Linked DNA regions of Homo sapiens. The protein of the gene in region 5 purifies or fractionates together with the protein of the main gene of each other region. This does not show direct contact. Each region holds a gene or a part of one and is shown on either strand. Other genes may lie near its edges.

Region 1 (3,500 bases), on a different chromosome or scaffold from region 5:
CTCACATTCACATTCATCAGCTCAGCTAACCTGACCACAGGTGGCCTTTTCCAACTGTTAAATCCACGATTTTTACACCTCTAATTTTTTTTAAAGTGGCAGGATCTTTATTTAAATAAAGTCTTCAGAGAACTTCAATACGTACATAACAACACAGAAAGTAGAGACATTTTGGTCGAAGCCTCACAGGTTTCTGAGAAATCTGTCCAAGCTTTGGGTTCGTGAGATCGTCTGAAACCACAGGTCCAGAGCCTCTGCTCCGCAAAGAACCGCCACGGGGGCCCCTGGTTTTTAAAGATTTACTGCCTCCAGCCTATATACCTGGACACAGAATTTTGGGGGACAAAGGCTGTCTCACTCATGCCATCTCCCAGGGTGCCTCCCTCGGGCACAGGCTCCAGGAACACTTGTGTACCAGTGAGGTATCCTCTATGGTTTCCCAGGCATCTCCAACCTCCACGAAGGCTGCCACTGCTGACAACACCCTACAATTGCCTCCGCCCCCTCAGATCACTCAAGCAGCCTGCTGAAGCCCCTTCCTCTCAGACTTTGCCCACTCACCCCAAAGAAACCTAGAATCTCAGGGATTCTCTTCTCATCTACTCACCACTCCAGATAGATGGAGTTTGCGCACAGGGTACCCCAGGACTTGAAATGAGGGCTCCCTTTCGAGAATGAAATCAGAAGACCCATTAGACAGTGGAAGAGGTCAGCCATTTAGAGCAGGGATCCACCGGAGAGGACCAGGAGACTCGGGACACGCTCAAGTCCAAGCAGCACACTCGGTCTCAGGGAGCCAGGACTGGAATGTGACTCAAGCTGAAACTTGAGACAGTTAAAACTGTGATCTACGTGAAGGGGTGAGGCCTGCCTCGAGATCAGAAAACGGGGGGCTCAAATTTAGGCAAATAAACAAAAGCAACTACACACACACGCAAACACACAGAGAGCTCTCTCTGAAGGATACAAACCAAATTAAGAGTGGTATAGCAGTGAACACAAAGAAAAACTTTGTGAGGGGTGAGTGGAGTGTGACTAAAGGAGTACATAATACGCTGCCTTTTTTCTTTGTTTCTTTTTTTTTTTTTTTTTTTTTTTTAGACAGTCTAGCTCAGTTGCCCAGGCTGGAGTACAGTAGTACAATCTGATTGGAGTACAATCAGAATTTACTGCAACCTCAAATTCTTGGGCTCAAGTGATCCTCTTGCCTTAGCCTCTAGTCTTAGTAGGGACTAGAGGTGCACACCAACATGCCCAGTTAATTTAAAAAATTTTTCTAGAGATGGAGTCTCCTTATGTTGCTCAGGTTGGTCTCGAACACCTAGCCTCAGGCAATCTTCCCACTTTGGCATCCTAAAGTGCTGGGAATGACAGGTCTGTGAGCCACTGTGCCTAGCCAAGGCTTTTTTCTTTATGCAAAAAAGCACACCTGTCATCCCAGAACTTTGGGAGGCCCAGGTGGGAGGACTGCTTGCACCCAGGAGTTGGAGACTAGCTTGGGCAACACAGTGAAAACCTGTCTCTACAAAAAATTTAAGAATTAGCCTGGTGTGGAGATGCACACCTGTGGTCCCAGCTACTCAGGAGGCTGTGGCAGGAGGACTGCTTGAGCCTGGGAGTTTGAGGTTGCAGTGAGCTATGATGGCGCCATGGTACTCCAGCCTGGGCAGGGACTCTGTCTCAAAAAACAAAAACAAAAGCACACCTGCTTTTTGAGAGCCCTACTCTCAGGAGAGCCTCCAGCCACCTCGTTGGCCATCATTCTATGGCTCTAGTTTCAAACACACATTTCAGACAAGTTGGTACAAGGAGACGTGCACTCCTACCTATTCACTTCTTCAAGAAGCATTTCCTGAGCGCCTGTAAACTATGCTTGGCATGGAGAGGTGAACAGAGGACTAGGCTTGGTCTCTGCCCTGCTGGACTACATTCCAGTCTCATCCTAATTCTGTCTGCTGGGTCATGTGTGGTTGGCAGAATGATGCCCCTCACCCTAATCCCTGGAACCCGTGAATGTTTTGTTACATGGCAAAGGGGAATGAAGGTTACAGATGAAATTAAGGTTGCTCATCAGCGGACTCAAAAAGAGATTATCCTGGACTGAGTAGCCCAATATAATCATGAGGGTCCTTGAATGGGGAAGAGGCAGATGAGCCGGAACCCAGGACAGTATCTGAGAAAGACTCTACTAGCCACTGCTGGCTTTGAAGATGGAAGGAGGCCACAAGCCAAGAAATGCAGGCAGCCTCTAGGAGCTGGGCAAGTCAAGAAAATAGATTTTCCCCTAGAGCTTCCAGGAAGGAACACAGCCCTGCCAACAGCTTGATTTTAGCTCAGTGAGACCCATTTTGGACCTCTGACCTCCAGAACTGTAAAATAATAAATTTGGGTTTTGTTTTGTTTTTAGAGAGGGTCTCGTTCTGTCGTCCAGGCTGGAGTGCAGTGGTGTGATCATAGCTCATTGCAGCCTTGAACTCCTGGGCTGAAACAATCCTCCTGTCTCAGCCTCCCAAGTGGCTGGGACTACAGGCACAAGCGATGTGTGTTGTTTTTTTTTTTTTTTTTTGAGACGGAGTTTCGCTCTGTCGCCCAGGCTGGAGTGCAGTGGCGCGATCTCGACTCACTGCAAGCTCCGCCTCCCGGGTTCACGCCATTCTCCTGCCTCAGCCTCCCGTGTAGCTGGGACTACAGGCGTGCGCCACCATGCCCGGCTAATTTTTGTATTTTTAGTAGAGACGGGGTTTCACCGTGTTAGCCAGGATGGTCTCGATCTCCTGACCTCGTGATCCGCCCGTCTCAGCCTCCCAAAGTGCTGGGATTACAGGCGTGAGCCACCGCGCCCGGCCCGATGTGTGTTGTTTTAAGCCATTAGATTTGTGTGATTTGTTACAGCAGCAAATAGGAAACTGACATAAGGACCATGGGGAAGAAGGAACCATTTCTTTGAGAAATGGTTTTCCCTTTTGGAAAAAGGAATGGACATCTGCCCTTCTATACAAGTTATTTTTGTAAGGGCCAAATAAACTGTATGTAAGCTTCTTTTTTTTTTTTTTTTTTGGAGACAGAGTTTCACTCTGTTGCCCAGGCTGGAGTGCAGTGGCGCAATCTCGGCTCACTGCAACTTCCACCTCCCAGGTTCAAGCAATTCTCCTGCCTCAGCCTCCCAAGTAGCTGGGATTACAGGCGCCTGCCACCACACCTGGCTAATTTTTATATTTTTAGTAGAGATGAGGTTTCGCCATATCGGCCAGGTTGGTCTCAAACTCCCGACCTCAGGTGATCTGCCCGCCTCAGCCTGCCAAAGTGCTGGGATTACAGGCGTGAGCCACCACGACTTGCCTTGTATGTAAGCTTCTTAAACTCAGTAGGAGCCCAAACAACACAAGCACTTACTGCTGTTATGAGGCAATTTACTGAGCTGGTGTCCCCTGGAGGTGTCTGTCCACTGCTCATCTTATCTATTCTCTGGACACCTAACTGAATTGCTGAGTGGCCCCATC
Region 2 (3,500 bases), on a different chromosome or scaffold from region 5:
AGCTAATTTTTGTATTTTTAGTAGACACGGGGTTTCACCACGTTGGCCAGGCTGGTCTTGAACTCCTGACCTCAGGTGATCCACCTGCCTCGGCCTCCCAAAGTGCTGGGATTACAGGCGTGAGCCACCACGCCTGGCCATCTTATTTTAGTTACAAAAATTTCTGGAGGATTTTGTTAAGTGAAACTATGCTAAGTGAAATAAGCCAGGTACAGAATGACAAATACCACATGATCTCACTTATATGTGGAATCTAAAAAAAGTTGAACTCATAGGCTGGGTGCAATGGCTCATGCCTGTAATCCTAGCACTTTGGGAGGCTGAAGGGGGAGGACTGCTTGAGGCCAGGAGTTCAAGACCAGCTTGGGCAACATAGCAAGACCCTGTCTTTATTTAAAACAAAAAAAAAAGTTGAACTCATAGAAAAAGAAATAGTGGTTACCAGGGGCCTTGGGGTGGGGGAGGAAGAGGAAGATAAGGAGATATTGGTCAAAGGGTACAAAATTTCAGTTAGGAGAAATAAGTTCAGGGTATCTATGGTACAACATGGTGAATATATTTAATAACAAAGTATTGGCGGGGATGGTGCTCATACCTGTAATCCCAATATTGTGAGAGGCCAAGGTGGGAGGATCGCTTGAACCTAGGAGTTTGAGACCAGCCTGGGCAACATAGTGAGACCCTGTCTCTATAAAAACCAAGAAAAAGACTGAAGTACTGTATATTTGAAGATTGCTAAGATAATGGATTTTAAGTGATCTCACCACAAAAAAAGAAGTATATAAGGTATTAGATATGTTAATTAGCTTGATTTAGTTATTCTACAAGGTATCCATATATCAAAACATCATGTTATATACCATGAATATAGACAGTTTCTGTCAGTTAAAAGTAAATAAAAATTTTAAAAAATTATCAATTCGTTAATTTTACCAAGTTGGGGCAAAAGCCTTTTAACAGTCCAGGAAATATTTAAAGCTAGTCAACAGCTTCTACAGAGATGAAGAACATTTTGTCCTAAGGGGTTTCTGTAGGGATCACCCCCATCTCTAGACTTCTACCTGGTAAACACGCCTTCCACTGGGTGATGAGATTAAGGTGATGGACTGTCGATCAACTAGGTCCAAGGCCTGGGTGGCTGATGAGCCAAAGAGAAACTTCAGCCTGTGAAATAAAAACACTTCAGATTAGAAGGCCTGATTCTCAAAGTCACCTCAGTAACTTGCCCAAAGGATCACTAGACTTAGTATTTTTTAAAAATTCATTTTAATTTTGAAAAAAGGAAAATAATACAGCAAAACCCATGGACCCATTCACTCCCCAGAATTAATGTTAATATCTTGTGTACTTATTTCAGATCTTCTTGTATTATGTATATATGTGTGTGTGTATATATATTTATTTATTATTATTATTATTTTTTGAGATGGAGTTTTTCTTTTGCTGCCCAGGCTGGAGTGCAATGGCGCAATCTTGGCTCACCGTAACCTCTGCCTCCCGAGTTCAAGCGATTCTCCTGCCTCAGCCTCCCAAGTAGCTGGGATTGCAGGCATGTGCCACCACACCCGGCTAATTTTGTATTTTTAGTAGAAACAGGGTTTCTCCATGTTGGTCAGGCTGCTCTCAAACTCCAGACCTCAGGTGATCCACCTGCCTCGGCCTCCCAAAGTGCTGGGATTACAGGTGTGAGCCACTGCGCCTGGCCTGTATTATATTTTTAATAAAGGGAGTAAACTGTTAGTGATAAAGAAGCCCTCTTTATACTTCTCTGTAGTGCATCCTTCTTCCTACCTTCCCCTTATCCCTGAGGCAAGCACATGCATTTGTTGGTTTCCTTCCTGTTAATGTGTTCATATTAAATATTATATATAGAACATATGTATGCACACATACATAACAAACACACGTGCATAGATGTATGCATATACATATATAGTATTGTTTTAAAACATAAAAGGTATATTGTAGGCTTCTTTTTGCTGTTCCTGAAATAGCTCATGAAAAATAAAAGAAAATATAAAATATCGTAGACTTCTTTTGGCAACTTGCATTTTTTTACTCAATGCATTTTTGAAAATGAGGCATGTTGACGGACATTTATTTTTACTTTACCTTTGAATAATATTCCATTATATGTATACACTGAATTTTATTTAAGTACTCTATGTATGGACATTGTTTCCATTTTATACTATTATAAATAATATTCAATTATCCCCATACATGTCCCTTGGCATACATCTCTGAAAATCCCCCTTTAGTTTATGTAACTAAAGCATATGTTCATTTTCAACTTTAATAGATATTGCCAATAGCTCTCCAAAGTGGAAACAGGAGTGGTGGCTCATGCCTGTAATCCCAGCATTTTGGAAGGCTGAGGCAAGAGGATCACTTGAGTCCAGGAGTTCAAGACCAGCCTGAGCAATGTAGTGACACCCCATCTCTAAAGAAAAAAGAAAAAAAAAAACTAAAACACACAAAAAAGTGAAAACAGCACTCCCACCAGCACTGTATAAGACTTCTATTTTCTCAGGCCGGGCGCGGTGGCTCATACCTGTAATCCTAGCACTTTGGGAGGCCGAGGCAGGCAGATCACCAGAGGTCAGGAGATCGAGACCATCCTGGCTAACATGGTGAAACCCCGTCTCTACTAAAAATACAAAAAATTAGCCGGGCGTGGTGGCACACGCCTGTAGTCCCAGCTACTCAGGAGGCTGAGGCAGGAGAATCGCTTGAATCCGGGAGGTGGAGGTTGCGGTGAGCCAAGATCGCGCCACTACACTCTGGCCCAGGTAACAGGGAGACTCCGTCTCAAAAAAAAAATAAATGAAACAAACAAACAGAAAAACCAACTTCTACTTTCTCCATGTCCCCACTAACACCAGTATTATCAGGCTTTTTTATGTTGCCCATCTGAAGATAATAAATGTGTACTTTTTGGATTAGTAATAAGGCTATCCAACTGTTAAATGATATACAGGAAAAAACTTTGATATGTGAGAAAATTCTTATAATATTAGGTGAGAAAGGTTGAAGACAAAATTATATTTTAGGAACTCTCAAGCATGTTAACTTTTTTAAAGGAAACCTACAATTATGTCAAAATTAAAAGTTTAATTTTTTTTTTTTTTGAGATGGAGTCTCACTCTGGTGTCCAGGCTGGAGAGCAGTGGCACAATCTCGGCTCACTGCAACTTCTGCCTCCGGGGTTCAAGAGATTCTCCGGCCCAGCCTCCTGAGTAGCTGGGATTATAGGTGCAGGCCACCATGCCCAGGTAATTTTTGTATTTTTTAGTAGAGATGGGCTTTTGCCATGTTGGTCAGGGTGGTCTTGAACTCCTGACCTGAGGTGATCCCCCCGCCTTGGCCTCTCAAAGTGCTGGGGTTACAGGTGTGAGCCAGCGTGTCTGGCCTTTTTGTTTGTTTGTTTTTTGTTTTTTGAGACAAAGTCTCTCTCTGTCACCCAGGCAGGCTGGATTCCAGTGGTGCAATCATGGCTC
Region 3 (3,500 bases), on a different chromosome or scaffold from region 5:
ACCTAAACCTATTTTTCATTTTCCCCCAAACTCCCAGACCCAAAGTGAAATCATGCCTCTGGTACCACTAGGAAGTCAGCTAATAGGTAGAGCTGGGAAAAGAAAGGAGGACATAAATAGAGTTGCAGGTGTGGGAATCACCATGCCCAAAGAAGAAATGAAAGGATGAAACAATATCATTCCAGAAATACCCTTATATGGGTAAAGTACCAAATAACTTGAATAAGAAAAAAGCATAGATTTTAAAAATGACCACCATGCCTCTTTTTGAGAACTACAGGCAAGAAGACAAACACGCACACACCCTATCACCCCATCTTCCCTCCAGACGGTGTACGCCCACCTCCACAGGCATCGTTCCCATGTTCCTGAAGCCAAAGCAGCCAGATAGACTCACCCGGAACCACCAAGGATATACTTAATCTAGTGCTCACTGGCATATGACCACCCCCACAGATGCGTCCCATAAATACAGAGACACACCAATACAATAAGAGGGAGAGAGGCCAGAGGGTCCCATGATTTGAAGGCTTTGACAGAGGAAGGGGGCGGCAAATTAGGAAAGTGAGGCAATGCCCAGTTGAAGTGCTCTGCATACAACGGATATTTAATAAATGCTAGTGACTAAAAGAGCTTCTAGATGGAGAAGATGAAGGTATAAGAGAAAGAAAAACATAAAAAATGATCAGCAAAGCAATTGCAGGATGCCAGTAAGCCCAAGAATGGAGTGGGATACATCTTACTGAAAGAGGTGTCATCTGTCTAAAACAATTCACTTTGAAAGACAAGTAGGGAAATCACTTAGATCACTGCCAATTGAAACAGAGGCTGGTATCAATGTAAAAGTCTGTCATGGATGCACAGAAAAAGTCCTCTGAAACCATGCAACTTACCGATGAGCATCTCATACATGATCACCCCAAGCGACCACCAATCACAGAGCTTGTTGTACCCGGTCTGCATGAACACCTCAGGAGCAATGTAGTCAGGAGTGCCTACTGTGGAGAAGGCCTGAAACATGGACCACACATCAGCGAGGCCCAGCCAGGCAGGAGGTGCCCAGAGTTCTGTTCTAGAAACCAAAGGCTATGAGTAACATCAGAAGCTACCCCCAAGCTAAATAAGCAGGACTGCCCAGTAGCTTAATGGCAAGCTCGATTTCCCAAAGCACTTTCCAAAATGAACAATAAAGCTTTGTTCATGAGGCAGGAGACCCTTAACTATGAGTCACTAGGGCGAAGGCATCTGTGTCATAATAACTGGTATTACAATTTACTGAGCACCCATTAAGTACTAGGCTCTGTACTTAATATATATATTACATGAGTTTTATATATATATATAACTTCATATACATGAGTCCATTTAATCCTGACAAAACTTTTCCAAGGAGGACCTTATTAGCTTAACTTTGCAGATACAATTTGATGCTCAAAATGGCTTTGCCTGAGACCGCAGAACTAGTTAGGTGGTAGAGCCCAGTTTAAAAATTAAATATCTGGCCGGGAGTGGTGGTTCACGCCTGTAATCCCAGCACTTTGAGAGGCTGAGGTGGGCGGATCACGAGGTCAAGAGATGGAGACCATCCTGGCCAACATGGTGAAAACCCGTCTCTACTAAAAATACAAAAATTAGCTGGGCGTGGTGGTGTGCACCTGTAGTCCTAGCTTCTCGGGAGGCTGAGGCAGGAGAATCGCTTGAACCCGGGAGGCGGAGGTTGCAGTGAGCCGAGATCGTGCCACTGCACTCCAGCCTGGCGACAGAGTGAGACTCTGTCTCAAAAAAAAAAAAAAAAAAAAATAGGAATTATAGTATCTTACTCCAAACCATCCCTCTTTCTATGATACACATTCTTTGATTTGACACAATCATAAAGGGAAGCTATATGATCAAAAGCTAAAGTTATATCCTATAACTTAAACATTTATAAATACCTATTTACCAAACTTAATTGTTTTTGTATATAGTTCTTGGAGGAATGTTTTCTTTTTCTAAGAAATGGGGGTCTCCCTTTGTGGGCCCAGGCTGGAGTGCAGTGGCACGATGATGGCTCACCTCAAACTCCTAGGCTCAAGAGATCCTCCCACCTCAGCCACCATAGTAGCTAGGACCACAGGTGCATGCCACCACACCTGGCTAATTTTTTAATTTTTTTGTAGAGATGGGGTTTTGCCATCTTGCCCAGACTGGTCTTTAACTCCTGGCTCAAGTGATCCTCCCACCTCAGCCTCCCAAAGTGCTGGGATTACAGGTGTGAGCCACCGCACCTGACCAAGAGAAACATTTTCTGCATTCCAGTATTCTACTCTAACATACCAGGACTGCAAAATAAGAGGAGAAAGTACAATCAAAGCCTCCTAATGTACTTAACATTTGAGGGCTTCCATGTGTAAGGCTCTGATCTAGGTGCTTTAAATATTATATAATTTTTTAAATTACAGTTGTATTGTTTTTAAAACATGTATTATGAAATATTACAAACATACAGAAAAAAGGAACAGACAATACAATACAGACCCATTACCCACATTAAAAAGATTAATAATTTGCCATATTTGTCTCAGATCATTTGTCTTTTTTTTTTTTTTTGAGATGAACCACACCTGGCTAATTTTTTGTATTTTTAGTAGAGACAGGGTTTCACCACATTGGCCAGGCTGGTCACAAACTCCTGACCTCAAGTGATCCACCCACCTCAGCCTCCCAAAGTACTGGGATTACAGGAGTGAGCCACCGCAACCGGCCTTGTTTGTCTTAACATTCGTTTTGAGATTTATTCATGTAGCTCTAGTTCACTCATTTCTCTGCCGTATGCTATACTGTTATATAAATTAGTCACAATAGTTTTTATCCGTTCTTCTGTAATGGACAGTTACAGTGCTTCCAGTATTTCACTATGACAAATAACACCTGAATAAACATTCTTTTAATACCTTCTTGGGCACTGTGCAAGCATTCCTCTAGAGTATTAACTAGAATATTGCTGAGCCTTGGGTTATAAGCATTTAAACTTGAGGTATCTTCCATGTCCTCCAAAGTAGTTAGTCCCTATTTAAACCAACCCCGGTGGGGATTAGCTTCTGGTACTCCATATCTCATCAAGACTTGGCTTTGTCAGATTTTTTTTTATTTTTACCAATCTGATGAATATGAAATGGGATCTCTTTTTTTTTCTTTTTAAGAGATGGGGTCTTGCTCTGTCACCCGGGCTGGAGTGCAGTGGTATGATCATAGCTCACTGCAGCCTTGAAATCCTGGCCTCAAGGGATTCTCCTGCCTCAGCCTCCTGAGTAGCTGGGACTGTAGGGATGTGCCAGCATGGCTGGGATCTTGTTTTAATTTGCATTTACTTTATTTCAAGTAGGGTTGAGCACATATTCATATTTTAATTAGCCATCCAGGTTTTTATTATGAATTCCTATTCAGATCCTTTGTCCATTAGTATTTTTTAAGTTGTGTTGTCCTTTTTCTTATTGATTCATAGGAATTCTTTATGAATT
Region 4 (4,136 bases), on a different chromosome or scaffold from region 5:
GGATGGGGCATGACAGCTGGCATTTCCAGTGGAAGAACTGCGATAGCTGCAATGTGGAGGTGGGGATAAAAGCCTGGCGTGTGCAGAGCCGGCGTGAGAGGCTCTGGGTGGTCACACTCACTCTGTTTGCCTGCCTTTCCTAACAGTCCCTCCAAACCAGGTTCTCCACTCACAGATGTGTACATCGAGACAGTCACACACACAGATGGTCATCCAGATGCATGCGCCATGGGTGTGTAGACTTAGAGAGCAAAAGAATCGTATCCAAACATGGTTAAATATATACACTTGTACACACAGACGATACACACATAGTCAAATACACAAGCACATTTAGATCTAGACACACAATTAGCTACAGGCTTAACAGTAGGAAACTGCAGATAGTCAACTGTTTTATCTACAAAAGTAGCAATTTTACATGGTTCAACTTAATACACACATATATACATATGGACATATATCAGAGAGTTATATATATGCAATATATTTATAAACATATATAAACAGGCAGTCATGTATGTACATATGAGCTGGAACATAATCACTGTCATTTACACATGCCTACCCACATAGATACATACACACAGATAGACACTCAGACACACACAGTTATGTATATAAATATATAAATATATAGCATATGTATGTGAACAGAGAGACATACATAAGCATACACAGTCATATATACAGAATCATATGCACAGAGCTACACAGACACATATATCTTCCCAATACCACATAACCACTGACAGCATTTAATTAGGCACTTGCTGTTTATCAGGGACTATGCCAGGCTCTTTGTATCAGAGACACCCAGACGTTTGAGTGAGAAGGGGGCAGAATGGGGAGCTCTTATAAACAGAGGCGGCTGGGCTTCCACAGGCAACAAACTGAGACTTCCCTTCCCTTGGCTTCGTCACCTTCCTCCATTGTCTGAAATTCTACCAACAGCTCGGCAATGTCTTACAGGAGAGAAACCAGTGGGGGACAAGGTGTGGTGAACTGGGGGAGAGACAAGCTTGTCACACCTGCCCATGCAGAGTGGCCCTGCGCAGGCTCGGTTTCTGCTGTGCCAGCTCTTTGCCTCTGAGCAGCTGGGCTGAATATTGGGGTGTGCTCCCTGGGAACACAATGACTCCCCCAAATCACCCACTTATGCTGTGCTTACTGTGTGCCAGGCCCTTATTCCTCGAGACACCATTTACTCCTGAGAGAGAGGCATGGGACCCCATTTTACAAGGAGTAAGTCTCCAGACCTGTCCTGTTGCCTTCCAGGAGTGTCCTGCCTGGAAGTCCTAATAAACTCATGCACTTGCCAATCTGGCCTTGTCTAAGTCATTCTTTGTTCTCTCAGCTCCTTCCTATGTTGGGGGTGCATTGTCCTGTACAGTCCTGGGTTTTTGCTGTAATAGTTGGTAAAGTGAATCTTTCTGATTTCAAATACTTGCACTCATGCACTTGCTAATCTGGCCTTGTCTAAGTCATTCTCTGGTCTCTCAGCTCCTTCCTATGTTGGGGGTGCATTGTCCTGTACAGTCCTGGGTTTTTGCTGTAATAGTTGGTAAGGTGAATCTTTCTGATTTCAAATACTTGCATTCAAATGCCACATTTGGCACTAACTCAGAGTCAGTCTTTGACCTTGTTAAGTGGTTCCCCGCTATGCCTCAATTTTCCTCATCTGCAAAATGGGGATGAAAATAGTCCTGTCCTCACAGCACCTTGTCGAGGAGTTACGTGATGATGGTGCATGAATCACAGCCAACACAGGGTCCAGCCTTGGAGCTCACCAGTGTACTTCCTTCCTCAGCCTGTCCCCATTACTGTCCCCTTTCTTTAAGGCAGGGCAAGGGTTGCACAGGTGAATGTAGGTTGGAGTGTTCCAGCCCCAGAAAAGGACGCAGGTGGAGGCCTCACCCAGATCAGGAGTCACCTGTCTAGCCACTCAGCAGCCCTCCCTCACCTGTCAGCAGGCCAGCCCCAGCCTTGTCAGGGGTGGGAATGGGGACAGGAGGTTGGGGGCGATGAGAGTTAGAGACAGAGCTTCCTCCCCACAAAGCCCAGATCCCAGAAGCCACACCCTCTCCTCAATTCCCAAGTCCCTTCCACAGATGGGGTGGTGGACCCACTGACCCAGTCACACCACAGCCCAGCAGGCACAGACAGGGTCCCTCCCCACACCTGAAGGCACAGAGACACACATGGACAGGCACCAAGCTCAGACACATGCGTGCAGCCATTCCTAAGTGTACGTGTGCAGACAGAGCTTTGCACAGACAAGCAGACGCAAAGACACATGTCTACACAGACACAGGCACATGCATTCCCCGCCCTGCCACCCCCTGACATATAGACAGGCACAGACAAGCACCGAGAAACTGGCAGAAAAGACACTTACAGATACCAACACAGGCAGGTGGACAGGCACAAATGTACACACATAAAAACACAGGCTTCTGAAAGCACTAAGAATCAGGCATCCACACATACACACACGCACGCACGCACACACACACGCGCACACACACCCCACAGGGCATTACCTGCCTTCCCCCAAACCCTTACTCTCCCTAGAGAAGTAGAGACAATCTGGTCCCCCCAGCAGAGGGATTTCCCGCACTCACCTCCCTTCTTCCTGCCAAAGACAGCAGGCAGCTGACTCCCCACAGCCAGGAGGGCCCCCAGGAGGAGAAGGCTCTGGGTCCTCATATTTCTGCTGCCGGCTCAGGGCCCAGGGCCCCCCAGATTAACACCTGCAGCCTCAGGGAAGCCAGAGAAACTTAGTCAGGAGAGGAAAGAGAGGGGGTGTGGAGTGACACCGTGCCTGCTTCATCTTGGCCCCACCCCCTGAGGGCCCGAGGACTCAGTGCAAGGGATGCTGTCACAATAGCTGAAGATAGGGTGGCGGCACATCCTGCATGTGGGGGACTCAGATCCAGTCTTGCCTGTATCGGTGACTTGGGCTGTGATCTTGGGCAAGTCTTGTCTCTCTGGGCTTCAGTTTTTTCATCTGTACACAGGGTGAAGGTTGTTGAGGCAGATGCTTGCTATCCTGGCTCTCAAAGATGTTGAAGCCCCAGCGATGTCTAGGCAGCGGGTAGAGGTCAGCTTTGAATAGCAAAGGAGTGGGGGTTTGCAGAGTTCTGGATGCCTAGGAAGGGAGAAGGCATTAGGGTTAGGCCAGAGCTTGCAGCCAAAGAAGGCTGGCCCAGGCTGGCATAATGAGTGAGGCCAGCCCTGGCCTCTCCTCTTGGGTCCTGTGGATGGGAGAAAGACCACCCCGCCTTTGGTGAGATCACCAGTGGCTTCTGATAGAACTGCCCTCTTCCTGGGGCTGGCTTGGCTGTTGAGGGTGGGGGAGCATGGCTTTTGGCTTGGCTAAGTTTGCTGGTCACAGCAGATGTGTGGCCACTGGAACCTCTTCTCTGGCCCTAAGGGATCCTGAGCAAAAAAATGTCATCTCATCCAGGGACCCCCACCTTAGATTTCGTATCTCTGATGTTGCCTCCTGCATTTGGTAGAAGAGAGGGAGCTGAGACTTGGCATCCTAAGGGACATCCTAAACAGAAACTCCATCGAAGTACATTCTCTCAGCCTTCTCATTTGAAAGACGAGGAAACTGTGAGATAGAGATGAGAGGGGACTGGCCCAAGGACACGCAGCTAATTCCTGACTAAGCTGGGACTTCCCACTGTGGCCTCCCCATCACCCTCATTCAGTTCCTGGGTTTTAAAAGCAGGTCAATACCTCATCTGATCCTGAGAAAGGAGGGTGATATTACAGGGCTTGTCTCACTTACCCATTCCAATCCAGGACAGCCCTGGCAGCAGGAAGTTCTTCCTTGGGTTTAATGTGAATCTCTCGTGCTGTCTTCTAAGCTATTAAGATAGGAGAGGCTCTGTCTTCTATGATCTGATGTTGCTTTTGGAATGCTGGCACCTCCTTGGAAGCTTTATTTTGGAGGACAAATATATGAGCCCTTCCTTCCTCCCTCCCTCCACCCCTCCCTCCCTCCACCCCTCCCTCCCTCTTTCTTTCTTTTTTCTTTTCTTTCTTTCTTTTTCTTTTTCTTTCTTTCCTTTTTTCATTTCTTTCTTCTTTCTTTCCTTCTTTCCTCTCTTTCTTTCCTTTCTCTT
Region 5 (3,500 bases):
TTAGGTTGTCTCAGAAGATAGCCTCTTGTAGGTCTCTGTCTCCGGGAGCCGTCTTTCTTTATGTAACATTACTTGACATGGCATTTATTTATTCTTTGTGAAACTTCTAAGAGTAATTTGGGAAAGTTAGTATTGACCTTTGTTTTGTTACAAGATATAGTGCGTGCATGAGTATGCGTGTATTTTTTCATTTTTAAACTCAGTTTGCTACACAAGTCATCTGTCACTTCTAGTTACAATAGGCGTTTTACTTGGTTTTCGTATTCCTGTTCGGGAATGTTAAAGATTCCAAAAATACTTAGTTTAAAAACAAGCCCAGTAGTTTCTCTGAGAGTGTATTTACTTTTTAAGAAGCTGCCAAATGGTTCGCAATTCTGACTCCTTGGAGAGTAGAGGTAAGAAGCCCTTTCCTCACACTGTTCTGTTACAACCACTTGATTCTAACCATTTCCCCCATTACTTGAAAAAGGTTTTAGAATCCTTTCTCATTAATTAGTTCAGAATTAAGAATAAATTTGCTGTGTTGAGACTGTAATTGTTTTAGCTGGCATGAGTGATCGTGCACAGTGAAAAAATCATGATAATAAAACTTAGATGAATAAAATTTATTTGTTCAAATCTTAAAGCCTTTGAGGTTTAAAAAGTATAATCATTGTGTTCTAATAATTAGACATTAATAATAAGTAGTAATTAAAAATACTTGGTTTAGCTATGTAAAACATAAAAGCTAACAGGCTTGGGGGAAAGACTGATTAAAGTAAGAAACTATTTTGAGGCATCTTTTTAAGGACTAAAAGTATTCCACTAGCCTGCCATTCTCTTTTTTGACGGATAATTACCTGATTCAATTAAAATGAACAGGTACAAAACTTCCATATACATACAGTACCAGGGATGATGCACTAAACAGGACTGAAGACACCCTGTCCTATAGAAGTGCAGAGTAGTGGTTGGCCATCCACAGCAAGGTGATGAGAGCTGAGACAGACCAGAGAGTAGGATCTCTGCTGTTACTTAGTTCCGAAGGAGCAGGCCCTCCTTCCTTTTCAGTGGCAGTTGAGGTTGCTCTTTTTATGTGGGAGAGTGAAATTAGCCAAGATTAGATCCCATAAGGAGAAGGAGGGGCTCTTATAACCAAGACCATTGTCTTTCTCTAGAAGAGGATGGTTAGGGACCTGAAAAGAAATGAGATTTTGTGTTTCCTTAGGTAAGATAGGATTCTTTCTCCTCAGAGGTGATTTTAGGGAAGTAATTGAAGATATTTTAAAGGAAAGCTCCATATCTCCAAAATATTATTTAGTAGCTGAAGTTCTACCAGGTAGTTTCAGTTAGCTTTCAGATATGGGATGCTTTGGGTTGGGTGTGGGGGTGAGAGTTGCAGGGGCAAGTTGCAGGGGCAAGATGCTGGGCAAATTGCAGGGGTGAGAGTTGCAGGCCTTAAGTACTCTATTAGGGGAATAGAGTACCTAAAGAATTGTGTATTTTAAGTTAAAAGTTATACAGGTATATGGTAAAAAAAAAAAAAATTTAATGATAGAGTAAAAAATGTTACTTTTTTCCTCCCCCCACAGGTAATCCACTGTTAACAGTTTCTTAAAAGTTTACTTTAAAAAAAATTGTACAAAGAGTATTGTTATACTGTTGTACTGTAATTTACTATTTTATTTATTTATTTTATTATTATTATTATTTTTTGAGATGGAGTCTCGCTCCGTTGCCCAGACTGGAGTGCAGTGGGGCAATCTTGGCTCACCACAACCTCCACCTCCTGGGTTCAAGTGATTCTCCTTCCTCAGCCTCCTGAGTAACTGGGACTACAGGCGTGTGCCACCATGCCCAGATAATTTTTGTATTTTTAGTAGAGACTGTGTTGGCCAGGCTGGTCTCAAACTCCTGACCTCGTGATCCGCCCGCCTCGGCCTCCCAAAGTGCTGAGATTACAGGCATGAGCCACCACGTCCGGCCTACTGTTTTATTTTTTAACTGTGATTTACTTTTTTCCTTAGTTAAGTCACAAGCTCTTTTCATACTGGCACATACAGATCAACATAATTAAGAAATAATAAGAATATTTTATTATAACATAATTTATTTTTTCTGACTCCTGTTGAGTAGTACTACGTTGTAATAGTTTACATTGACCAGCAGCGTATGAGAATGCCTGTGACATGTATTTACCAACATTGGACTTTAAAAAACTATATTGCCAATTTGATATATGAAATTTGTCTTGTTTTGGGTTTGTATTTCTTTGTGAGTGAAGGTAAACATTTGTTTATATGCTTATTAGGGGGAGGCCATTTGCAACATATTCTTTAATCAAGTGGTTTAATGCTAGTTTAATTTACTTGCTGCCCCCACCACCTACCTTCACCCTTACCTAAGAGCTAAGATGGTCTGAGAGAAGTGGGACTTTAAGAAGAGGAAAAATATTTTGGGGCTCATGGCACCTTGACGGGGAGCAATGCTCTGAATGGAGAGGCTACAGCACCTGGCTTTGAACAACTCTGGGTCAGTATGAGAGTATTGAAAGCCCTTGACTTGGTGTAAACATAAGGTAGAAGAGAAGCTGAAGCGACACACAGGAAGGGAGATTTGAGAGTCAGGGCAAATAAATTTTGTATAGAGTCAACCCCACCTTGTACCATCTGCTTATCCTGTCTCATCACTTCTCCCTCCCACCTTCAACTATCATTTCATTTTTATTCATACTGTCATTTGGTTTTCTCCTCTTTTCCTGTCAGGCATGGCAGCCTGGACCTGGGTATTTCAAATGCCCCAGAGATGAGGTGTGCTTAGTTTTTGGTTTTCTTTTTTTTTGAGACGGAGTTTCGCACTTGTTGCACAGGCTGGAATGCAGTGGTGTGATCTCGGCTCACTGCAGCCTCGGCCTTGGCAGGTTCAGGCGATTCTCCTGCCTCAGCCTTCTGAGTAGCTGGGACTACAGGTGCACGCCACCACGTCTGGCTAATTTTTTGCATTTTTAGTAGAGACAGGGTTTCACCATGCTGGCCAGGCTGGTCTCGAACTCCTGGCCTCAGGTGATCTGCCCGCCTTGGCCTCTCAAAGTGCTGGAATTACAGGCGTGAGCCACTGCGCCCTGGCCTAAGTAGAAGCTCTTGAGCACTTTTTCCCCCTCTGTCTCTTTGGTACTATTCCTTTCAGCTTTCGACTCTCCTAGCCTTCTGGGGTAACATAAATAGGTCAAGTCTTTATAGCTGTAGTTGGAATTCGGAAGGTCACTGGCATTTAAGACTTGAACATAGGAGCATATATCACAATATATGCTCCTATGATATATCAGGATGTGATGCTTGATAAGTGGGGTCCCTTTCTAAGGAATGCAGAAGAGCATGGTGGTTAATTTAAGCATATAGACTTAAGAGTCAAGACAGCTTGGGTTTTTATCTCCTCTAGCTAAACAAGCAATTACCTAATCTTACTAAATCTCAACTTCTTAATCTGAACAGTGGGACTAACAGCAGAAACCTCATTTTTAA
Region 6 (3,500 bases), on a different chromosome or scaffold from region 5:
TGTCCGGCAAGCGTCGGTCAGCCGAACACTGTGTGCCTGGTGGTGTGTGTTCACATGTGTGCGTGCGTGTGCCCGGCAGAGCAGCAAACAGCTGCGCCCGAGAGCTGTGGCGCTTTCCCTCCCTACCTCCCTTCTTCCCTCCATCCGCTCTCCGACCTCCCTCCGTTCCCTGTCCCTCATCCATCCAGCTGAAGGGCTCGCTCACTCTCTTCTCCTATGCTGAAACGGTGCGTGGGGCACTGCTGCCTGGACCTCACTGTGCTCTGCTTTTTCCCGCAGCACTCCCTCAACATCCTGGGCCAGAAGGTGTCGATGCACTACAGTGACCCCAAGCCCAAGATCAATGAGGACTGGCTGTGCAATAAGGTACAGGGGCGGTGGGCAGCAGTTGTCATGGACAGAGACAGCAACAGCAGTGGCGGCGATCTCTCCCTTCCTCTCCCGCTCTTTCTCCCTCCATCTCTCCCCCTCCCCCAATCTCTCCTCTCCCTCTGTCTCTCTCTCTCTCTCTCTCTCTCTCTCTCATTCTCTATCCCTTGCTAGCTCAGCTTGAGTAGTCACCATTCCTAGCCAGCCATATACAAATGTGTAGTGAGCGTTCACTTGGTGCAGGCTCTGTCCTCCTAAAATGCAGTCTTGCCTGGAGTTCCAGTAGACTTTAAGGAAATATATACGTGGATGATGAATTAGTGACAGTGTAGACTTGAAGTGGTGGTGTGGAGAATGTGGGCTTCAGAGCCAGACTGGCTGAAATGAGACTATCCCAGATCGGCCTTGATTTTGGCCAAGGTGCTTAGCCTCTCTTTGCCTCACTTTCCCCATCTCTAAAATGTGAATATTAATGACACCTCTCCCAAAAGGTGGTTGGGAGGATTCAGCTGTGTTAATGAGAGAGTAACACTCAGAACAGTGCCTGGCCCACATTTAACACAGTCGAATTGTTAACTGTAATCATGAAAGAAAAGCACAGAGCGTTCTGAGAGCCCATAGCAGGTAGCTCAAGCCTGAAGGCCACTCTGACCAGGCCAAGTCAAACCTGAAACTGGAGGCTGTGGTTTTGTAGTCACCTCTGTCTTCCCTGAGGGGAAGCTGAGGCTCAGAGAGGTGGAACCATGGGTGAACCTTTAGCTGTGCCCTGTGCCTTGCTCCTGATCACAGGGACTTGGATGCCACAGTGGCTTCAGGTCTGCCCTGGGGCCAGCATTGTGATTCCACAGTTTGTAGAGGCCCCAACCCTCTCCCCAGGAAGTACTCTGCCTAGTCAGGGAGAGTGGTGCATCTGTTTTAAAAAAAAAAGTCCCATCAGAGGATTGGTGCTTAACATTTCTGGAGAGATAAAGACAAAGTGACAGTGGAACTCCTTCCTGTGTTTCCAGATAGCCTCAAAACCAGGGAATTCTCTTTTTTTTTTTTTTGAGACAGGATCTGGCTCTGTCGCCCAGGCTGGAGTGCAGCAATCTGGGCTCACTGCAACCTCTGTCTCCAGCGCTCAAGCCATCAGCCTCCAGAGTAGCTGGGACCACAGGCGCATGCCACCACACCCACTAATTTTTGCCTTTTTATTTTTATTTTTTTTGGTAGAGACAGGGTTTCGTCATGTTTGCCAGGCTGGTCTTGAACTCCTGAGCTCAAGCAGTCCTCACGCCTCAGCCTCCCAAAGTGCTGGGATTACAGGCGTGAGCCACCACGCCCAGCCCAAAACCAGGGAATTCTCTTGAACTCCTTCCCCTCCCCTGCATCCTGTTGGCCACCAGGTCCTGTCACTTCCATCACAGAAACGCCACCTTCCCTCCCTCGCCATTCCCGCTGCTCATGCCAATCGTCACGCTCTCACCCACTCACTGTGGAGCCCTCTCTGGTATGCTGGCCTCTTGTCCTCTTTCTCCCACGCCCTCACCTGGAACATTCCTCAAAACCACCTCTGACTACCCACGCCTCTCCTCCTCTGCTTAACCAGCCCCAGCTCAGCTTAAGCATAAGATCCTCCATTACCTAACTGGCTTCCTTCCCCGGCCTTGGCTTTTGCTTCTCCCCTTACTCTCCCACACCAGTTTCGGAAAGTCCATTGTTCCCTCCGATAACAATCCCTCCCCAGCAAGGCTTAACAAAATGAAACTTCTGGGCATCCCAGGTCAAACCTCCCTGCTTCTGTGCAGGGACTGTCCCTGCCGAGTAAATGGCACCCCACCCCCAGCCCATTTCCCTCCCCGAGCCCCTGCTGGATGGTCCATGCAGACCGACCTGCCCCTCTTCATGCTGCATCTGCCCCTGTGCTATTAGGCCATGAGGGCAGAGACCATGTTCTGGCCATGTGCAGCAGGGCCTGGCCCAGGAGTGGTGCTTAGTACCTGAGTCTGGAACAGAGATGGAGTGTGGTAGAAGCTGGGTCTCCAGATGCTGGAACATTCAAGGAAAATTTCTCAAGCGTAGCAGGATCCAACCCAGTCCTAGAGCTAAGAGGAGGGGTGCGGGTCTGGCTACTGACTTCTAGGGCTGAAACACTGAAAGGTTTCTGAATAGAGGAGCAAGTTTCAGGGAGAGGAACCTAATAAAGGGATTGAATACCTGAGGCGGGGAACAGTCCTGGGAGTTGGTGGCCTTAAGAAGGCAGAGGAAGGAGAGGAGGGAGTTGTTGTACCAAATGGGGGAGTTGTTTATTCCTGAGCTGAGTGGGTTGGCACAGAGGACAAATGAGAGTCTGGAAAGGGAAGATGCACAGTACTGAGAACAACATCAGAAGGTTCAGAAGGCACCTGCCACCATTGCCTAGGGGCTTTCCTTCCTGGGGCACTGCGGGGTCCCTGGGAGATCTCTTCATCCAAGTTTGGAGGGTGCAGTGGGAAATCCCTGCTCCCTCTGACGGCCTGGCCTGTGCCTCACAGTGTGGCGTCCAGAACTTCAAACGCCGAGAGAAGTGCTTCAAATGTGGCGTGCCCAAGTCAGGTGAGGCCCACCTACCTCTCGTGCTCTCCAGGGCGGAGCGGTTGGGGAGAAGGGAAGGGTGAGGGGTCTGTGCTCAGGGCTTGGTATAGGGAGGAGGGTGACCAGTCGTGGAGCCTTCCCCTTATCACCAGCCTGTCTCCCACTGCCCCTGACAGAGGCAGAGCAGAAGCTGCCCCTCGGCACGAGGCTGGATCAGCAGACACTGCCACTGGGTGGCCGGGAGCTGAGCCAGGGCCTGCTTCCCCTGCCGCAGCCCTACCAGGCCCAGGGAGTCCTGGCCTCCCAAGCCCTGTCACAGGGCTCGGAGCCAAGCTCAGAGAACGCCAATGACAGTGAGTCAGTTGTTCCTTCTTCCTCTGTGCCCTAGGGTGTCGGGCTGGGCTCACCAAGACCAGAGAAATGGCAGTGAGCAGGACCTCATCCTCATGGAATCTCCACTTGGTGCGGGGATAGACATTTGATGTAGGGAGAACAGGGGGAGTGGCAACATCCCACCTGACTTTGGGGGTGTGTCGGGAAGGTTCTCAGCAGACAGGCAGCCAGGCTGGCACCTGGAC
Region 7 (3,189 bases), on a different chromosome or scaffold from region 5:
ACCCTTTTGTGCCCACTGCCCTTTGCCAAGGGCTGCACCAAGACCAGCCCCACCTACCTGTGTGCTCTTTTCCAGGCCACTCTTTCTGAGCTTTTCCCCACTGACTTAAAACCTACCCAAATCACTCCTGCCTTCAAAGACCTGGAAAAGAGTGCTGGATGGTGAGACCCACAGGTGGAGGGATGGCTGAGAGGGTGGACTTGCTATGTGGCTGAGGCCAGGTGGACCAGAGGAAGTGGTAGGTGGACAGAGCCAGGTGCTGGCTGGCACCACCAGGCAGTGGCCGGTGCAGGTGCTATGAGGAGGCGGGGATGCCGAGGGGTCCTGACCTCTGTCCACTGCCACCCGGAGGGCCTGGAGGACAGAGTAAGGAGATCTTGTCCTTGGGGCCAATCCCCATGCTGATTTCCTGCCAGGCACTGAGGGCTCCTGGGGCCCAAGACCCACAGAAGGCTCAGAGCACACTCAAGCACTGGCCTCGAGACCAGAGCCACAATGGGGACGGAGCCTAAAATAAGCATTTTATTTAATAAAAAATGGCTTCTACATCTCAAATCATGTCCATAACTTACAATCTAAATGAAAGCCAGTTACATAAATAAGAAGGTCATTCTGGAAGAATCAAATTCTAGAAAACAAAACAAGAAAAAACAAGTTTCAAACGATGTTGATGTGCCACCGAATTGAAGAAACTGCCCAGGCGTCCCCTCTGGGTAGTGCTGCTGAGTAGCCAGGACTGCTTGTGGGGGTGAGGCCACCCCAGACTCGGAGGCCCCTGCTGTCCTCATAGCACCCCTTGACTGGGCTGAGCTGTCCTACATCAGAGCTCCTGCCCCCTGGCCCGGGCACCTTCTTACCTCACGGACCCCGCCCAGCTGCTCAGCCAGCCCCCTGGCACCCTCCCATGGGGGCTCTCCCTCCATCCCTCGGCACTCTGCTGCTCAGCCCTCCTAGCCCAGGCCACCTGTGCCCCTGCCTCAGTGGAAGGACACACAGCAGCATAACATCACCACCAAGCAGGCTGCAGGGGAGGGGTTTGCCTCTAGCACCCACTCCACTGCCAGAGAGCCCCACCTCTGCCTCCGCCCCACCCTATGCAGTCCTGTGATGCTCACACTCATCGTCTAAGGAGAGAGTGGGCCCCATTTTTGGATGAGGAAACAGGCTAAGCCTGATTAGGTGGCTGGCCCAAGGTCACTGCTGATGACCCTACAGAACTTGCCAAAAACCCCGAGGGTCTGACTCAGAGCCCCGCGCCCAAAATGGGCCCCATGTAGCCCAGGCCACCCTGAGAGGAACTGTGGGGTCCCTGAGGCCCCCTATGCTGTTGTCAGCAGAAACCCCCACTCCAGCCCCAACAGGAGAACAGGTGCTTGCCCCTGGAGGGATGGACAGATGGATGGATGGACGGACGGATGGGAGAGTGGGGAGGACCCCAGGCCTGGCCTGAGGGACCTCCTGCAACAGAGTCTTGGCAGGGCCCATCTGCCACAGCCGCAGCCTCCAGGCTAGGGCTCTGGGAGATGCAGGGCTGGATGTGGCATTCCCTGTGGGGAACCTGGGCTGAGAGATGGTTACAAAGACACAAGGCAGGCCTATTTCCTGGGAACCCTTAAGAAAGAGGTAGCACATGGGGCAGTGGGAGGTGTCCCGGGACAGTGACCTGCCAGTGAATCCCAATGGGGCCCTCAGGACAGCTGTGTGCTGGTGAAGGCCCCAGCAGAACCAGCGCTTTGGAATTCCCAGCTAAGCGGCTGCCAACAGCTTTGCTTTCTCATGAGCCAAGCACACAAAAGCCCGGATGGCTGCTCTGCGGGCTCTTGCCCAGCGCCTGACACGAAGGCTGTGGGACAGGAGGCTCCAGGTGGCCTTCGAGGGCAGCACCAGGGAGTCTGTGTGTGACATGTGTCACACGCGATGCCCAGCCCAAGTGTGGTCAGCAGAGGGTGAATACCAGCTCTTTCTGAAGGGATCGCAGGGGCTTAATGAAATTAGCTGCCTCAAAATGCCCCATTGTGGCCCTGCTGGCAGCCTAAGGACAGATGTGCTTGGGAAAAATGTGTTGGCTCCAATCTCAAGAACCCTGCTTCGGTCTGAAACCCAAGTAGAAGCCTCCGTTGAGGGAGGACAGAGCAGGGCATCAGGGTCGGGCTCTGAGGGGGCTGCTGCAGCCACCCCTGCAGAACCCCTGTAACTCACCCTAGGACAGGAGGGAAATAAGTGCGTCCAGAAACTTGCTCCGATCCTCAGCTTTCAGCTCAATTACTGAAGTAATGAAAGAAAAACAGCCGTGAGAAGGGAGGAGTGGGAACACAAGACAGGGCACAGAACTCCCCTCCGCTGCCTGCCCTCCACTGCATTCCAAAGTGCGCGGCTCCTCCCGGCCTGTGGTATTCTGCACTCAGTGGTTGTGTCTGTCTCACTGTACTTCATCTTCACAACTGCTGTCTGCACTGCTAGAGAGGTCAGGGTTGGGGCCTGCAGGGAGAACTCCCCCCCGGGAAGACAATAGAGGTGACACAGGGAAGGGCCCTACAGACCTGGACAAACACGGGCCTGCCCACCCCAGCTGGCATGAACCCCCGTCCCCAGAGTGGGTTGTGGAAGTCCTTGGGTGGGGCAGGTCACTTTTGGCCGCACTCTGGCCAATTCCTCGGCTTCAGTGTTCTCTTCCGCACAAGGGGACATGGTGCAAACTGCCCATATCTCACAGGGCCCTCAGGCTCAGCTGAGCACCCAGACCCTCACCACAAAGCAAAACCAGGCCCCAGGATGGGGCTGGCCTGGCCCTGGGAGCCATCTATGCTGCCAGCCACAGCCCCGAGAGCCCCAGACCCAGCCCACGCAGGTGGGCACTAGACATGGCCCACTCTGCACCCTCACCCCTGGCTCTCCACCCTCAGGGAAACCAAGCAGTTCCCAGCCCGAGTCCTCCCTGTATACTGAAGGCCAGATATTCTGCAGGCCAGTGGGTGTCCATCCACCTCTCCCACATCACAGGCACAAAAGAGTTAGCAGGGGCTGCTGTGCGGGGTGAACCAATGCCACACAGTGCCACAGCCATGGCTGGGTCTGGCTCAAGGAAGGCAGCTCTGAGATGGCTGACGCCACTTCAACAAAGGCTGGATCTCCCATGACAGTGTCTATCATTGTTGAGGAATCCGTGGTGATGAGGCAAGAAAATATCCT

Evidence for each region.
Region 1: the proteins of PDS5B (region 5) and SPINDOC purify together in Homo sapiens (affinity purification with mass spectrometry, with the first as the bait; one large-scale study listed by BioGRID). This does not show direct contact.
Region 2: the proteins of PDS5B (region 5) and ZSWIM7 purify together in Homo sapiens (co-immunoprecipitation; one large-scale study listed by IntAct). This does not show direct contact.
Region 3: the proteins of PDS5B (region 5) and STK38 purify together in Homo sapiens (affinity purification with mass spectrometry, with the first as the bait; one large-scale study listed by BioGRID). This does not show direct contact.
Region 4: the proteins of PDS5B (region 5) and WFDC5 purify together in Homo sapiens (affinity purification with western blotting; one study listed by BioGRID). This does not show direct contact.
Region 6: the proteins of PDS5B (region 5) and RBM10 purify together in Homo sapiens (affinity purification with mass spectrometry, with the first as the bait; one large-scale study listed by BioGRID). This does not show direct contact.
Region 7: the proteins of PDS5B (region 5) and CDC45 purify together in Homo sapiens (affinity purification with western blotting; one study listed by BioGRID and IntAct). This does not show direct contact.

Annotation. Positions count from the first base shown.
Region 1 is NC_000011.10:63,819,956-63,823,455, reverse strand, and holds part of SPINDOC (spindlin interactor and repressor of chromatin-binding protein), read right to left. Parts: intron 826-3,500; exon of another isoform or gene 666-825; coding exon of another isoform or gene 608-665; intron 322-607; coding exon of another isoform or gene 300-321; exon of another isoform or gene 1-299. UniProt on the Homo sapiens protein: Chromatin protein that stabilizes SPIN1 and enhances its association with histone H3 trimethylated at both 'Lys-4' and 'Lys-9' (H3K4me3K9me3).
Region 2 is NC_000017.11:15,986,205-15,989,704, forward strand, and holds part of ZSWIM7 (zinc finger SWIM domain-containing protein 7), read right to left. Parts: intron 1,165-3,500; coding exon 1,062-1,164; intron 1-1,061. UniProt on the Homo sapiens protein: Involved in early stages of the homologous recombination repair (HRR) pathway of double-stranded DNA breaks arising during DNA replication or induced by DNA-damaging agents. Required for meiotic progression, hence for fertility.
Region 3 is NC_000006.12:36,498,980-36,502,479, forward strand, and holds part of STK38 (serine/threonine-protein kinase 38), read right to left. Parts: intron 1,012-3,500; coding exon 894-1,011; intron 1-893. UniProt on the Homo sapiens protein: Serine/threonine-protein kinase that acts as a negative regulator of MAP3K1/2 signaling. Converts MAP3K2 from its phosphorylated form to its non-phosphorylated form and inhibits autophosphorylation of MAP3K2.
Region 4 is NC_000020.11:45,112,375-45,116,510, forward strand, and holds the start of WFDC5 (WAP four-disulfide core domain protein 5 precursor), read right to left. Parts: upstream 2,801-4,136; 5' UTR 2,710-2,800; coding exon 2,625-2,709; intron 152-2,624; exon of another isoform or gene 1-151.
Region 5 is NC_000013.11:32,589,452-32,592,951, forward strand, and holds part of PDS5B (sister chromatid cohesion protein PDS5 homolog B), read left to right. Parts: intron 1-3,500. UniProt on the Homo sapiens protein: Regulator of sister chromatid cohesion in mitosis which may stabilize cohesin complex association with chromatin. May couple sister chromatid cohesion during mitosis to DNA replication.
Region 6 is NC_000023.11:47,176,221-47,179,720, forward strand, and holds part of RBM10 (RNA-binding protein 10), read left to right. Parts: intron 1-279; coding exon 280-366; intron 367-2,882; coding exon 2,883-2,943; intron 2,944-3,098; coding exon 3,099-3,275; intron 3,276-3,325; exon of another isoform or gene 3,326-3,500. UniProt on the Homo sapiens protein: Binds to ssRNA containing the consensus sequence 5'-AGGUAA-3'. May be involved in post-transcriptional processing, most probably in mRNA splicing. Binds to RNA homopolymers, with a preference for poly(G) and poly(U) and little for poly(A).
Region 7 is NC_000022.11:19,517,920-19,521,108, reverse strand, and holds the end of CDC45 (cell division control protein 45 homolog), read right to left. Parts: intron 2,266-3,189; coding exon 2,201-2,265; 3' UTR 2,200-2,200; intron 629-2,199; 3' UTR 501-628; downstream 1-500. UniProt on the Homo sapiens protein: Required for initiation of chromosomal DNA replication. Core component of CDC45-MCM-GINS (CMG) helicase, the molecular machine that unwinds template DNA during replication, and around which the replisome is built.